Regions from separate parts of the Homo sapiens genome. Here region 1 is linked to region 2. The links come from fine-mapping of genetic effects on gene expression. Tissue or cell type: unexposed skin. Region 2 holds a variant in brackets; the other region holds the start of a gene. All regions are shown on one strand. Distances are from middle to middle.

Region 1 (8,101 bases), 490 kb before region 2:
AGAAAAGAAAAAGAATCATTCTTAAAACCTAGGCAGATTCTGGAAATAGTAGACAATCTTTCCAGAAGTGCTTTACAACAGTGACCTCTACATAGCAAACCCATGCTTGAAGGATCTTGGCTCAAACCCCAAATGTTGGCCAACAAGCATAAAATAAAATGTTTGGCCGGGCATGGTGGCTCCTGTCTATAATCCTAGCACTTTGGGAGGCTGAGGCGGGTGGATCAGGAGGTCAAGTGATCGAGACTATCCTGGTCAACATGGTGAAATCCCGTCTTTTCGTACTAAAAACACAAAAATTAGCTGGGCGTGGTGGCGCGCACCTGTAGTTCCAGCTACTAGGGAGGCTGAGGTAGGAGAATCGCTTGAACTCTGGAGGGAAAGGTTGCAGTGAGCCGAGATCACGCCACTGCACTCCAGCCTGGTGACAGAGCAAGACTCTGTCTCAAAAATAAATAAATAAATAAAATGTTTAAGGTGTACGTGATATGCTACGTGTTTTTAGAATTCCTCACTTTACTCAGTTCCAAGGGCCTCTGCTATTTTATTCCATTCCACAGAAGGGAAAACAGATTCAATGAGGTCGGGCAGTGGATGGAGCTGAGTCTAGAACGCGGGTCTGATCCTATGTGAAAGTTCCGGTGACTCCAGGCTGAAGTAGAGTCTGGATTAGCATCTCTCTTCGGAGCTGCTTTTGGGAGTTGAAGGGTATAGAAAGTTCTAGAATTACTTACCCTGGAAACTGGGGAAATAGGTAGCCAGGTGGGAGGTGGGGATTTTCTCCTCCAGGATGTCGGTTTTGTTGAGAAAGAGGATGACGGATGTGCTTTTGAACCAGGGTAGTTCCAGGATAGTCCCAAACAATGCGAGGCTCTCCTTCATGCGGTTCTGTGTTGGGGGCAGAAGCAGGTTAGTGCTTCAACCAGCCAGGTGGGACAGGAAACCCTCCCATCGCGGAGACGGGGCTGTTGGCTCCAGGGGCATGGGCTCACCCCTATCTGCCTGGCTGGGGCTGAGGCGGGTGTGCCCGTGTTTCCATATGGACAGCTGCCTGGGTGTGCCTGACATGGTTTTGTGCCTGTGCTGGTTGGAAGTGTGTCCTCCCGAAATTCATGTCCCCCCAGAGCTTCAGAGTGTGACCTTATCTGGAGAGAGATTCTTGAACTCCTGGCCTCCCAGCGTGCTGGGGTTATAGGCATGAACCACTGCACCTGGCCTGGAGATAGGGTCTTTGAAGAGGTCGTTAAGGTGAGGCAATACTAGAATACGGTGGCCCTCAAGTCCGTGACTGCTGTCCTCATAAGAAGAGGGAGACCTGGCCGGGCGCGGCAGCTCACGGCTGTAATCCTAGCACTTTGGGAGGCCAAGGCGGGCAGATCACCTGAGGCCAGGAGTTGGAGACCAGCCTGGCTAACATGGTGAAACCCCGTTTCTACTAAAAATACAAAAAATTAGCCGGGCATGATGGCAGGTGCCTGTAAACCCAGCTACTCGGGAGGCTGAGGCAGGAAAATCGCTTGAACCCGGGAGGCGGAGGTTGCAGTGAGCTGAGATCGCGCCACTGCACTCTAACCTGGGCGACAAAAGCGAGACTCCATCTCAAAAAAAAAAGTACAATAAGGTCTCAAATGCCTTGTGTTATGGGGTACATCATATTTCCCCAAAATTCATACGTTCAAGACCTAACCCCCTAGAACCTCAGTTTGTGACCTTCTTTGGAAACAGGGCCATCACACGAGGAATTAACCCAGATGAGGTCGTACTGGAGTAGGGTGGGCCCTGATCCTAGACGACTGGTGTACTTATTAAAAGAGGCTATTGGCTGGGCACAGTGGCTCACGCCTGTAATCCCAGCACTTTGGGAGGCCGAGGCGGGCGGATCACGAGGTCAGGAGATTGAGACCATCCTGGCTAACATGGTGAAACCCCCTCTCTTCTAAGAATACAAAAAAAAAATTAGCCGAGCGTGGTGGCGGGTGCCTGTAATCCCACCTACTCCGGAGGCTGAGGCAGGAGAATGGTGTGAACCCGGGAGGCGGAGTTTCCAGTGAGCCGAGATCGCGCCACTGCACTCCAGCCTGTGCGTGTGCGTGCATGTGTGTGTGCACGCATGTGTGTGCCTGTGTGCCTGTGTGTGCGTGTGTGTGCCTGTGTGTGCGTGTGCATGTGTGTACTGTGTGTGTGCATGTGTGTGTTCATGTGTGTGCGCATGTGTACATATGCGTGTATTGTGCACGTGAGTGCATGCAAGTGTGCATGTGTGTGGTGCATGTGTGTTCGTGTGCATGTGTTGTGCATGTGCACTGCGTGTGTACATGTGTCCCGTGTGTGCACGTGTGTATGTGCATGTATTATGCACGTGTCTGTGCGTGTTTGTGTGCATGCATTGTGTATGTGCGTGTGTGCACTGTAGTGTGTGTGTGTGTGTGTGTGTGTGTGTGTGTGTGTGTGTCTGGGGTCCTGACCAAACAAATGCTGTAGGTCTGTGTCTTGGGTTGCTGCAATCTGACCACAAAAGGCTGAAGGGTCAAGTTCATAGCCATGCTGGGCACACACAGGCCCGTTCAAGAGCAGGGATCCCTCCCTTTCTGCACCAGAGCTTCCTGCTCAGGTGAGGGTCCCTGGGCCAACAAGTGGGCAGGGCGAGGGAGGCGGTGGCGCACCTCCTGGTTGTTCTCCTCCAGGCACTGGTCGTATTCACTCAGTGAGGCCAGGTAGATGAGGGCGATCACGTTCTCGAAACAATGGATCCATTTCTTACGCTCTGACTTCTGGCCCCCGACGTCCACGATCCTACAGGGAACCGAGGTGCCCCCTTTCAGAGCTCAGGAGCCTGCTCCGTGACACCCCCAACCCCCATCACGTCTGGGATATGCCAAGATCCATAATAGCGACAGCAAGAATAGGTGCTAGCCTCTCGTGGATTTGCCATGTCATTCCCGCGAGGCAAGGATGAGTCTTACGCCCATTTTACAGATGAGAAGCCTGAGATCCAGGGAGGAGCGGGGACTTTCCCAAGCTTCTACTGTGCTGGGCTGCCTGCTTTCTACCCCCATATTAGAGGGGAGCAGGTTGGACAGATCTGAGATGTGCCCTGGTGCTGGCTGGGCGACCCGGCGGAGGAAATTGCCAAACATCTCCAAAACTCAGTTTTCCCATCTGTGCTATGGGGCTCCTGTGCTCTGGCTGGCCATGGGCATGTCCAGTGGCCACACAGATGGGAATGAGGGCTGTTCCCAGAGCACACGTCCTCCCCTCCATCTGTGACTCAGCCCCACGCACCGTAACAAAAGCCTGAACCCTGCCCCCACCTTCCTGTTCTCTCTCTTCTGAGAAATGTGGGTCGCTGATAACCATCTGTGCGTCATTTCCCTGGGGATGCAACCGTTACTCAGGAAGTCCCAGAACAGAGGCTTTGGACGGGCCCGGCCCAGGGCCTCAAGCAAGAAGGGACTTGCCCCATTGCACAGGAGGGGAAACCGGGACTGATGATGAAGCAGTTAGGCTGCAGCTGCTGGATGTGTCTCCTGATCCCTGAGACCCACTCCTCCCATGCATCCTCAGAGTCCCTCAAACCCCACATCCAGAGCCAGACAGGGTAAGCAGCCGTCGAGAGGGGGCTCTGGAGACTGAGACGGGAGTGGGATCAGCAACTGACCAGTTGGGAACTGTGGGCATCACCTCTCATCTCGGGTCTCAGTGTCCTCTGAGCCCTCACTCCATTCATTCGTCTCACTCCTGGGCCACACCTAAAAATCACTTCCTTGGCCCAGACTTCCCCATGATTTCCCAGCCTCTACCTTCACTCCTAAACTTTTATCCACCCACCCACCCCATTCATCGATTTATTCACTCATCCATCCACCCATCCACCCACCCACTCATCCATCCACCCATCCAGCCATTCACTCATCCATCCATCTATCCATCTACCCATCTATCCATCCATCCATCATCCATCCACCCACCCATCCATCCACCCATCCAGCCATTCACTCATCCATCCATCTATCCATCTACCCATCTATCCATCCATCCATCATCCATCCACCTGTCCACCCATTTACGAAATCCACCCACCGACCCACCCATCCATCTCTCCATTTACTCATCCATCCATCCATCCACCCATCTGTCCACCCATTACCCAGCTACCCATCCATCCATCTACCCATCTATCCACTCACTCATCCACCCATGTACCCATCCACCCACCCTCCCACCCATCCACTCATCCATTCATCCACTCACCCATCCACCCATTCATCCATTCATCCGTCACCCACCACCCATCTACCCATTCATTCATCCATCCATCCACTCATCCACCCATCCATCCACCCATTCATCCATCCATCCATCACCCACCACCCATCTACCCATTCATTCATCCATCCATCCACTCATCCACCCATCCATCCACCCATTCATCCATCCATCCATCCATCCATCCCACCCATCCATCCATCTATCCATCCACCCATCCATCTATTCATTCACTCATCCATCCATCTATCCGTCTATCCATCTACCCATCTATTCATCCATCCATCATCCACCTGCCTGTCCACCCATTTACTCAATCCACCCATCCATCCATCGCTTCATCTACTCATCTATCCATCCACCCATCTGTTCACCCATTATCCATCTACTCATACATCCATCTACCCATCTATCCACTCACTCGTCCACCCATCTACCCATCCACCCACCCACACCCCCATCCACTCATCCATTCATCCATCCATTCACCCACTCATCCATCCATCCTTCACTCACCCATTCACCCATTTATTCATTCATTCATCCATCACCTGCCACCCATCTACCCATTCATTCATCCATCCATCCACTCATCCACCCATCCATCCATGCATTCACCCACCCATTCATCCATCCATTCATCCATCCCACCCACCCATCCATCTATCCACTCATCCATCCATCCTTCACTCACCAATCCACCCACCCATCCATTCACCCATCACCCTTCCACCCATCTACCCATTAATTCATCCATCCACTCATTCACCCATCCATCCACCCATTCATCCACCCATCTATCCATCTATCCACTCATCCACCCACTCATCCATTCATGTATCACCCATCCACCCATCTAACCATCCATCCATCCATCCATCCACTCATCCCTCTTTCAATCCATCCATCTATCCATCCATTCATCCATCCACCCACTCATCCATCTATCCATTGATTCATCCACTCATCCATCCTGCCACTCCATCCATCCACTCATCTATCCCTCAACTTATCCATCCATCTATTCATCTATCCATCCACCCATTCATCCACCCATCCATTCCCTTCCATCTTTCCTTTTTTTTTTTTTTTAAAGATTCCCAGACCAAGTATCTCTCCCATAGAAGTCATCCTTGGGTACTAACACTACTATTGTGTCCCAGAGCTGGTTCCTTCTCGTGGGTTCTCGGTCTCGCTGACTTCAAGAATGAAGCCGCAGACCTTCGCAGTAAGTGTTACAGCTCTTAAAGGTGGTGTGGACCCAAAGAGTGAGCAGCAGCAAGATTTATTGTGAAGAGCGAAAGAACAAAGCTTCCACAGCGTGGAAGGGGACCCGAGCGGGTTGCCCCCATTCCATCTTTCCAACCATCCACCCACATTTACCAACTTCTACTCTGACCTTTAGCTATTCACTAAAGAAGCAGAAGAATCAAACTCAGCCCCTAACCTTGTGAGGCTCTCCATCTTGTAGAGGAGACCCACAGAAAACAGATAAATTATGAACCTTCCTAGTAAGGACTATTGAAGAGGCCAAAACAATAGGTTTGGGGGATTTAGGGAAAGGAAGGCCAAATAGGGGTAGGTCAAACACAATCGCTGTCTCTGGGCATGACTTTGCACCCCTGCTCAGCTCCCCGCCATCAGCCCATGGAAACAGATCTTGCTAAGGTCACCAGTGACCCTCTAACTGCCAATCCCAGAGTCATTCTTCTCACTGTATTCTTGACCTTTCCTTTCCTGACCTTTGACATTGGCCATTGCTCTGCTGGGTTAGGGTTAGGGTTAGGGTGCTGCACTGGCCATTCCCACCTCTGTCTGCCAGCTAAGGTGGAGTCCCCCTAGGCCCCTCAGACTCAACCTGTCCCAAAGGACTCCATCACCACCTTTTCATCCTCTAGCCCACCGGCTCCACTGTCTACCCCCATCACCTTGACAAAAAACTCAGGTGTCATTTTTGACTTCCTGTTCTAATTCCCACACTCATCCAGTCCTGCCCATTCCACATCAGAAACAACTCTTGCCCATCCCTTCCTTTCCATCCCCACGCCCGCTGTCCTGGCTCCTCCTTTTTCTGAGTTTCCTGACTTCCAGCCTCACACTCTAGTCCATCCCCCAGTGTTGATGACTACAGGGATCACCTCTGAGCTCCCCAGACCAGGCCTCCCCAGACCTGGTCCTGACTGTATAGTCTCTATTTCCTCCTCCCCAGCAGCCCCTTCAGGGTTAGGACTACTGAACTCCTATTCGTCTTTCAAAACCCCATTAATATTCCCTCCTCCAAGAAGATATTCCCTCCTGGATCTCTGATGCCTCAGCCTGGGCTCCTACAGGTCCCAGTCCTGACTACCTGGGGGCCTGGAGGTGTCTACATGGAGCTTTGCTTCCCCTAGCTTGGCAGCTCCTTGAAGGCTGGGCCTAAGAAACTCCTACTCATCCCTCAGGGCCCCAGCTCCTTTGCCCTTCCTACAGGAAGCCTTCCCTGCCCCCTAGGCTGGGCCTAGGTGGAGCGCTCACCGCAGGTTGGTTTTCTGCACGGAGAAGCAGTACTCGTTGATGCCAGTGGTGGGCATGCGGCTGCGGAGCACGTCCTGAGCTGTGGGGACGTAGCCCTCCTCGGTGATGCGCTCCAGGTGGGACAGGTAGCTGCAGAGCAAGGAGTCCTGAGGCCCAGCCTTGCAGCCAGCCTCCCTTTGCTTCCCAGGCCCTACGAAAGGCCCAGCAAGGACCCTGCTGGGGGAGGAGAGCTCCCTGGGTGGAGGTGGGGTCCCTGGAGTTGGCAGATGGCCCAGGAGCGTCCCCCACCTGAGGCAATGGAGCCCCAAGGAAAAGCAGCTTCACACGCAGAGCAGGGTGACCCGAGGGATGGCGTGACATGAGGAATGGCCTCATCGAGGAGTGGTGTCCCCCGGGAGAGCTGCTATGGCAGGGGTGGCGCTACCCCAAGAATGCTGGTAGCCTGGGAACAGTCTTCCCAGACATCAAGCCACCTTGGACATCCACCATCACACCTAGTACAGGATCCCACTAGGAATAGGGTCACCCCCAGAACAGGGTCTCCCCTGGAACAGAGTCCCCCCTAAAACAGGGTCACTTTAGGAACAGGGTCCCCCCAGGAACAGGGTCACTCCAGGAACAGGGTCCCCCCAGAATAGGGTCCCCTCAGAAACAGGGTCACTCCCAGAAAAGGGTCCCTTCTAAAACAGGGGCACTCTAGGAACAGGTTCCCGCCAGGAATAGGGTCACTCCGGGAACAGGGTTCTCTAGGAATAGGGTTCCCCCAGGAACAAGGTCCCCCCAGGAACAGGGTCCCTCCAAGAACAGGGTCACTCTAGGAATACAGTCCCCCCAGGAACAGGATCACCCCTAGGAACAGGGTCACTCCAGGAAAAGGATCAACGCCAGAACAGGATCCCCCAGGAAATAGGGTCTCCCTGGGAACAGAGTCACCCCCGGGAACAGGGTCCCCCCAGAAACAGGGTCACCCCTGAAACAGGGTCCTCACGGGAACAGGGACTCCAAGGCCCAGGGTCACTCCAGGAACAGGGTTCTCCAGGAATAGGGTTCCCCCCAGGATCAGGGTTCCCCCCAAGAACAGGGTCACTCTAGGAATACGGTTCCCCCAGGAACAGGGTCACCCCTGAAACAGGGTCCTCGCAGGAACAGGGAACCCCAGGCACAGGGTCACTCTAGGAACAGGATACCCCCTAGAACAGGGTCTCCCCAAGGAACTGGATTCCCTCAGGAACAGAGTCACTCCTAGAACAGAGTCCCCCTATGAATAGGGTCATTCCAAGAACAAGATCACCGCCAGAACAGAGTCCCAAGGAACAGGGTC
Region 2 (8,101 bases):
TCTCAAAAAATAAGTAAAATAAATTGAAAAAGAATAATAAAAGGAGGTAATCCAGGTTCTAAATAATAAAGCCAGTATGTGCCATGACCCATGGCTCAGACACCACTTTAAACATTTTATAGATACTCATTTATGTAATCTCCAAAACCAGTCTCACAGGGTGGATGCTGCTTCGATGTGCATTCTACAGAGTGGGAAACTGAGGCACAGCGACAGTGGCAAGGGACTGAAGGTCACCCAGCCAGACAGCGAGTCGTGAAGTCAGAATGGAGTAGCTCTTGTCCAGCACTCCACCTTGGCCATACCAGAGCGTACGTCCCCACCCAATCCTTCCTCGGGACTCAGTGGAGCTATTTTCACATTGAGGGGAAATAGAAATCCGTTCGTTCTCATTTTCTTTCTTTTTTTTGTCCCGCATGGCCCTCTTCCCAAATCCTTGTTGCCCGTCTCACCAGACATTCCAGTTCCAAGAGGTGGGGTGTGGCGAGGACTGTCCAGCACGGCAGGGTGATCCTGCCCCCCCCCCCCCAGGGGACACTGGGCCATGTCTGGGGACATTTGTGGCTGTCACCATTGAGAAGTGCTCCGGGCATGCAGTGGCTGGAGGTCACGGATGCCGCTCAGCGTGCTGCAGTGCTCAGGACGGCTCCATCCCAGAGAATGGTACAGCCCCAGTGTCCACCGTGCCTGGGAGGAGAGACTCAGCATTCATTATTTGGAGAAGAAATGGAGTCTGCTTCCTGCTCACCAGGACACACTCCTGATGGGGCAGACGGTGTAAACCAGGGGACCCCAGCTCGTGGGATTCACCTCCTCTCTCCCTCCCCCCAACTAAAGGTGTGGATTTCAATGTGTGCAGCCTCCTGGGACCTCAGCAGGACAGAAGATCAGGGGACAGAGTATCTTGGGGGTCCGTGGAATTTCCTAATTCAGGGGGTGTCAACTGAGGGTGATTCTGCCCCAGGGGACACTGGGTGTTGTCTGAGGACATTTGTCGTTGTCACAACTTGAGGATGGTCGTGGCGTGGAGTGGGTGGAGGCCAGGGACACTGCTCAGCACCCTGCAGTGTCCGGGACAGCTGCACCCTAGAGAATGACCCAGCTCTGAATGTCCACGGTTTCCAGGGGAGAGACCTTGCATTAACTGGCAAAAAAATGAGTTTGCTCCCTGCTCACAGTAGACACCAGAATAGATTCCCGATGGGGCAGACGGTGTCAGCCGGGGCCATCCTCCCAGAGTGACCTAGAGGACTGGGTGAGGAGGGTCTCTAGAGCACTGAGGGTGCAGGACACAGAGCCAACCGTCTGATTGTTCCTTCCCCCTCCTTGACCTCGGCTCACAGAGACCTTGAACCCTCAGGGTCAAGCAGGCCTGCCCCTTTGTTCTGTGTGCCCCAGGGTGCAGTGGAGCCTGTTCCAGGTCACGCCCGGCCTGGCCGTCATCAGTCTCGTGGCTCTGAAGCAGCCACGTCACTCCCCCAGTCCCGGCACCTCCCCTGCGCCTGCACCTGGGTGAGAGCCCGTCCAGGCCTCTCTGCCCCCTTCCTTTGCAATCAGCACTTTGCTGGTGACATATTTAGATGGTTGCTGTGGTGATGAGTGAAGGCTGAGGTTGACAACTTCAGCGATGGCACAAAGGACAGGGCTGTGTTTCTATATCCAGCCTCCAACGAGACAAGACGCCCCTGCCACGTGCTGGCAGAATGTCAGCGTGGGAAGGGAAGGGGGCTCTGACAGCCCGTCCTGCCCACTCAGTTCCCAGAGGAGGAAGTGCAGCCGGGCCTGGGGGGCGGTGGAGGATAGGCCTGTCATCAAATGTCAGGTCCCTGGCTGTCCTGCCCTTGAGGGACATGCCTTAGAGCATTGGGTCTCAACTGGGGGCAAGCCTGCCCCCTGGGGGACACTGGTAATGTCTGGGGACATTTGTGGGTACCGTGACTTGGGGGTGCTCCTGGCCTGGAGTAGGTGGAGACCAGGGATGCTACTCAGCACTGTGCAGTGCCCAGAACGGCCCCACCCCAGAGAATAATCAAGCCCCAGTTTAATAGTGTCAAGATCAAGCCACGTTGCTTTAGTAGGAAATAGATAAAAGCCAGTGGATTTGTTCAGTTTTAAAAACTGGTGCTGGCATGCATATCTTGATAATTTGCAAAATGCCAAAATGAATCATTTTCTTGGCCTGGTCATTCTTCTGATTTGCCCTCAGTGAATGTACCTTATCCATCTGGGCTTTTGCATCTCTCCCAATTATCAGGTTGATAGATATTGGAAAAACAAGAAAATGAAAAATCCAATTGCTGGCTTTTAGGAAAAGGTAATGTTTGACTACACACCTGTCTTTATTTTGTGCTGCTATAATGGAATGCCATAGACTGGATAATTTATAAATAATAGAGATTTGTTTCTTAACGGTTCTAGGGACTGGGAAGTCCAATGTCGAGGTGCTGGCATCTGGTGAGGGCCTTCTTGCTGCGTCAGAGGTGGAAGGGCAAAAGAGCACATATATGAAAGATTGGGGAACTGGGGAAGAAAGAGGAGGGGGGGGAGAGAGAGAGAAAGGGTGAGAGGGAGAGAGAAAGAGAGATGGCATTAATGAGGGTAGGGCCTTCATAACCTAATCACCTCTTAAAGTTCTCACCTCTCAACATGGTGGCATTGGGAATTAAAGTTTCTACAATATGCTTTTTGGGAGACACATTCAAACTATAGCAACATCTGCTTGGAGGAGTCATGTGGATCAGCCCTTCCTTCCCTTTGCAGATGTACCAGTTATCTATCACTGTGTAACAAATTACCCCAACACTTAGCTTAAACAGCAAGCATTTACTATCCTGCAGTTTCTGTGGGTCAGTGGGATATTATATTACTTGCATTATATTTATTATATTATTTGGTCTTTGTCCTGATTTTTTTCTGGTGCAGAACTCCTAAAATCCTTGGAATCTGCAAAGTCATGTCTTTTTGTATGATGATAAGTCGACTGATGGCTGACAGCTTCTAGTTATTTTCAGGAATGGTCTGGCCACCAGAAAGATCAAGGCAGGATGAGAGGGCTGGAACCTTTAGCTGTACCCTCCAGCCTCTGGGGAGGGGAGAAGGGCTGAAGGTTGAGGTGATGACCAGTGGCCAGTGACGCGATCAGTCATGCCTATGAAGTAAAGCCTCCATAAAACTTCAAAAGGACGGGGTTTGGAGAACTTTGAGATAGCTGAGCACATGGAGGTTCCTGAAGGGTAGCATGCCAAGGAAGCTTTGCCCTTCTTCCCTATACCTCATCCTATGCATCTTTTCGTCTGTATTCTTTGTAATATGCTTTATATTAAACCAGTAAATGTGTTTCCCTGAATTCCGAGAGCTGCTGTAGTAAATTAAACCCAACCCTAACTTCAAGCTGGTCAGTTGGAAGTTCTGGAGGCCCAAACTTGCTACTGGTATCTGAAGAGGTTAGGGGCAGTCTTGTGGGGGGATTTAGCCCTCAACCTGTGGGGTCCAAGGCTGTCTCCAGGTAGATAGCACCTGAATTGAATTGAACTGAATCGAATTAGGGGACAGCTAGCTGGTGTGTGGGGAAACTCCTCTCACATTTGGTCACAGAAATATCTTGGGTTGATTTTTTTTTTTTTTTTTTTTTGAGATGGAGTCTCGCTCTGTCGCCCAGACTGGAGTGCAATGGTGCAATCTCTGCTCACTGCAGCCTCCGCCCCCCAGGTTCAAGTGATTCTCCTGCCTCAGCCTCCTGAGTAGCTGAGATTACAGGTGCCCACAACCACGCCTGGCTAATTTTTGTATTTTTGGTAGAGACAGGGTTTCACCGTGTTGGTCACGCTGGTCTCAAACTCCTGATCTTAAGTGATCCACCTGCCTTGGCCTCTGAAAGTGCTGGGATTACAGGCGTGAGCCACTGCACCTGGCCATGTTGATTGCTGTTGATGTGAGAGCAAGAGGAAAAGCAATTTGAGTTTGAGTTTTTTCCACCCTCACTCAGGAGTTAGGAAGCAGCTCCACTGGGTGATTCTGGCAGTGAATGTGCTGGGGCTGTATCATCTGAAGGCTCGATTGGAGCTGGAGGAGCTGCTTTCAAGAGGGCGCCCTCATGTGGCTGTTGGTGGAGGCCTCAGCTTCCAACTGGCCTTGACAGGAGGGCAAAATGCCCAAATGAGTCGTTCCTTCCTTCTTTCCTTTTTTCCTTCCTTCCTTCCTTTTTTTTTTTTTTTTTTTTTAATGGAGTCTCACTTTGTCAGCCAGGCTAGAGTGCAGTGGCACAATCTTGGCTCACTGCAACCTCTGCCTCTTGGATTCATGCAATT[C/T]TTCTGCCTCAGCCTCCCGAGTAGCTGAGATTACAGGCATAATTACAGTAATTAGCCAATTACTGGCTAATTTTTATATTTTTTTTTAGTAGAGATAGGGTTTCACTGTGTTGGCCAGGCTGGTCTCAAATTCCTGATCTCAAATGACCTGCCCCAACCTTGGCCTCCCAGAGTGCTGGGATTATAGGCATGAGCCACTGTGCCCAGCCTGGAGGGCCCATTTCTTTCTTTCTTTCTTTCTTTCTTTCTTTCTTTCTTTCTTTCTTTCTTTCTTTCTTTCTCTTTCTTTCTTTCTTTCTTTCTTTCTTTCTTTTCTTTCTTTCTTTCTTTCTTTCTTTTCTTTCTTTCTTTCCTTTTCTTTTTTTTTTTTTTGAGACAGAGTTTTGCTCTTGTTGCCCAGGCTGGAGTGCAGTGGCACGATCTTGGCTCACTGCAACCTCCGCCTCCCAGGTTCAAGTAATTCTCCTGTCTCAGCCTCTCTAGTAGCTGGGATTACAGGCATGCACCACCACGCCCGGCTAATTTTGTATTTTTAGTAGAGACAGGGTTTCTCCATGTTGGTCAGGCTGACCTCGAACTCCCAACCTCAGGTGATCTGCCCGCCTCGGCCTCCCAGAGTACTGGGATTACAGGTGTGAGCCAACGTGCCCGGCCTGGAGGGCCCATTTCTGCAACACATGGATTTCTTCACAGCACTGCCTGCATTTCCCCACAACATGGCAGCTGGCTTCCCCCAGAACACATGACCCAAGAAAGAACAAGCAAAAGTCACTGTGTCTTTATTTATTTATTTGAGACAGGGTCTTCCTCCATTGCCCAGGCTGGAGTGCAGTGGTATGAGCATGGCTCCCCACAGTCTTGAACTCCTGGGCTCCAGTGATCCTCCTGCCTCAGGCTTCCAAGTAGCTGTGATTACAGGGGCACACCATCACGACTGGCTAATTTTTGTATTTTTTGTACAGATGGTGGTGGGGTGTTGGTGGTGGGGGTGTCTCACTATGTTGCCCAGGCTGGTCTTGAACTCCTAGGCCCCCATCCTCCCATCTCAGCCTCCCAACGTGCTGGGATCACAGGCGTGAGCCACCACACCCAGCCTCGTCTACTTTCTAGCTTGTCTTCTTGTACCTTTGAGGGCAGGAACATGGTAAACAGATGAAAAATATACGTCCAGTTTCTCCCTTCCCTGTGGTTTTGGAGCAGGAGGATGAAAAGGTCTTACCCACAGCATCAACCCTTCAATGGAAGGAATTGTGTTTCTCCCACAGGGAATCAGGATTGGAAAGGGATGAGGCTCAGGGAGAATTACACAGAGCCTTGTGGGTGTAACGGGGATGAAGATGTGTTATCTCCCACTTGATGCCATCTTGCAGAAATAAGCTAATCATCTCCAGAATATGCTTTCGTTCACCAAATGGGATTTACACATGCATCCTAGGCTAATCTGCCTTCCACGGATGGCAGGTTCTGTGAGTAATCCGACAGAGGCTAATTGGGACGGATTCCATGAGGACTGCTGTGTGATCCGCTCGCCGCCATGGCCCCTCGGTGAGGAGGATGGCTCTGGTGTGGGTTAATCCAGGCTTAAGTGGCCAGGAGATTTTGATCCTCATGGTATTACATTGTGATGATACTCACAGGGGCTCGGGGGAAAGCAGAAAATCCATTTGGCCAAGACTGACCAGTCTTCTCTCTGGGGCTTATTCAGGAAGCTTGTGGAAGGGGATCCAGTCATAAATGTCAGTGCTTACGGATCATGTTGTCTAAAGTGGGTGTCTCTCCTTTCCTCTTCCTTCCCTCATCCCTCCCTCCCTCCCTCCCTTCCTTCCTTCCTCCATCCCTCCCTCGCTCACACTCATTCCCCTTCCCTTCCTCTCTCCCTCCCTCTCACTCTGTTTTCCTCTCTCTCCCACCCTTTCTCCCTCTTCCTCTCCCTTCCTCTTTCCTTCCCTCCCTCTTTCCCTCCCCTCCTCTCTTTTTTTTTTTTTTTTTTTAAGATGGAGTCTCACTCCTCTATTTCCCAGGCTGGAGTGTAGTGGCGTGATCTCAGCTCACTGCAACCTCCGCCTCCCAGGTCCAAGCGATTCTCCTGCCTCAGCTTCCCAAGTAGCTGGGATTACAGGCAAGTGCCACCATGCCTGGCTAATTTTTGTATTTTTAGTAGAGATGGAGTTTTGCCATGTTGGCCAGGCTGGTCTCAAACTCCTGTCAAACTCCTGACCTCAGGTGATCCCCCCATCTCAGCCTCTCAAAGTGCTGGGATGACAGACGTGAGCCACCGCGCCCGGCCCTCCTCTCCTTTATTTAAAAAAAATCAAGGCCAGGCGCAGTGGCTCACGTCTGTCATCCCAGGACTTTGGGAGGCCAAGGTGGGCGGATCACGAGGTCAGGAGATTGAGACCATCCTGGCTAACCCGGTGAAACCTCGTCTCTACTAAAAATACAAAAAATTAGCCAGGTGTGGTGGCGGGCGCCTGTAGTCCCAGCTACTCGGGAGGCTGAGGCAGGAGAATGGCATGAACCCGGGAGGTGGAGCTTGCAGTGAGCCGAGATTGTGCCACTGCCCTCCAGCCTGGGTGACAGAGCGAGACTCCATTTCAAAAAAAAAAAAAAATCAGAACGCTTGGTTCGTGATACAACTCTCACAATTTGTCTCTTCAAGTCCCCCTTTTAATAGACTATTTTTAGAGCAGTTTTAGGCCTAAAGAAGAATTGAGCAGAAGGCAGAGTTCCCACCTATCTCCTCTCCCCGAAAAGGTACGCATTTCCCCCAATGTTACCCTCTCTCATTAATGTGCTACATTTGTTACAACTAATGAGCCAGTGGATACATGATTATTGACTAACAGCTACAGTTTACATTTGGTGTGGCTCACTCTCTAGGGACCTCCTAAGCGTGGAGTTACACAGGATTTGTCCTTTTGCATCTGGCTCATTTCACTGGGCGTGATGCCCTCAAAGTTCATCCACTCTCTAGCCCATGTCAAAATTTCCTTCCTTTTTCAGGCTGAATCATATTCCGTGGCATAATGGATGACATTGTGTTTATCCATTCATCTCTCGGTGGTCACTTGGGTGTCTCTGCCTTTGGGGTGTGGTGAATCGTGCTGCTGTGAACACGGGGGTACATTTTGGTTTCGGGGGATGTACCACGTTTTGTTTATACTTGGCTTATTTTTATAAAGCTCGGGGCTAAAAAGCCTTTTCCATTTTAAAAGTGTTGTAAAAAAACAAATAACAAAGAGGAATATGCAACAGTGACCCTTTAGCTCACAGAGCATAAAATACTTACTTTTTGTCCCTTTGCAGAAAAAATTTGCAGACCCCAGATGTAAGATACTAACATGAGGGGAAACTGGGTGAGGGGCGTTTGAGAACTGTAGGGTCCAGCCCTATAGGGTCTGTGGGTTTTTCTCCCCGTGTGTGGAGACGAGAGATCGTAGAAATAAAGACACAAGACAAAGAGGTAAAAGAAAAGACAGCTGGGCCCGGGGGACCACTACCACCAAGACATGAAGACCGGTAGTGGCCCCAAATGCCAGGCTGCACTGTTATTTATTGGATACAAGACAAGGGGGCAGGGTAAGGAGTATGAGCCATCTCCAATGATAGGTAAGGTCATGTGTCCACTGGACATGGGGCCCTTCCCTGTTTGGCAGCCGAGGCAAAGAGAGAGAGAGAGAGAGGAGACAGCTTACGCCATTATTTCCGCATTTCAGAGACTTTTAGTACTTTCACTAATTCTGTTACTGCTATCTCGAAGGCAGAGCCAGGCAGCTCGTGCCCTCAGTCTCTTG

Evidence for each region. PIP is the estimated chance that this variant, and not a neighbour inherited with it, causes the effect.
Region 1: it holds the start of GNA15-DT, and the variant in region 2 is fine-mapped to the expression of GNA15-DT in unexposed skin (GTEx, PIP 0.99).

What each region holds. Positions count from the first base shown.
Region 1 is chr19:3,150,515-3,158,615 of GRCh38, reverse strand. GNA15-DT (GNA15 divergent transcript) reads left to right here and starts at 3,441. Exons shown (of 4, transcript NR_110670.1): 1 at 3,441-3,598. GNA15 (G protein subunit alpha 15) reads right to left here. Exons shown (of 7, transcript NM_002068.4): 4 at 6,781-6,909; 5 at 2,664-2,793; 6 at 735-888. RefSeq lists enhancers at 3,121-3,210, 3,251-3,580, 2,868-3,825.
Region 2 is chr19:2,657,790-2,665,890 of GRCh38, reverse strand. The region is part of intron 1 of GNG7 (G protein subunit gamma 7); the gene reads left to right. Among named protein-coding and RNA genes, the nearest start is that of MIR7850, 31 kb to the right of the region's middle. The variant C/T (reference allele first, on the strand shown) is at 4,308.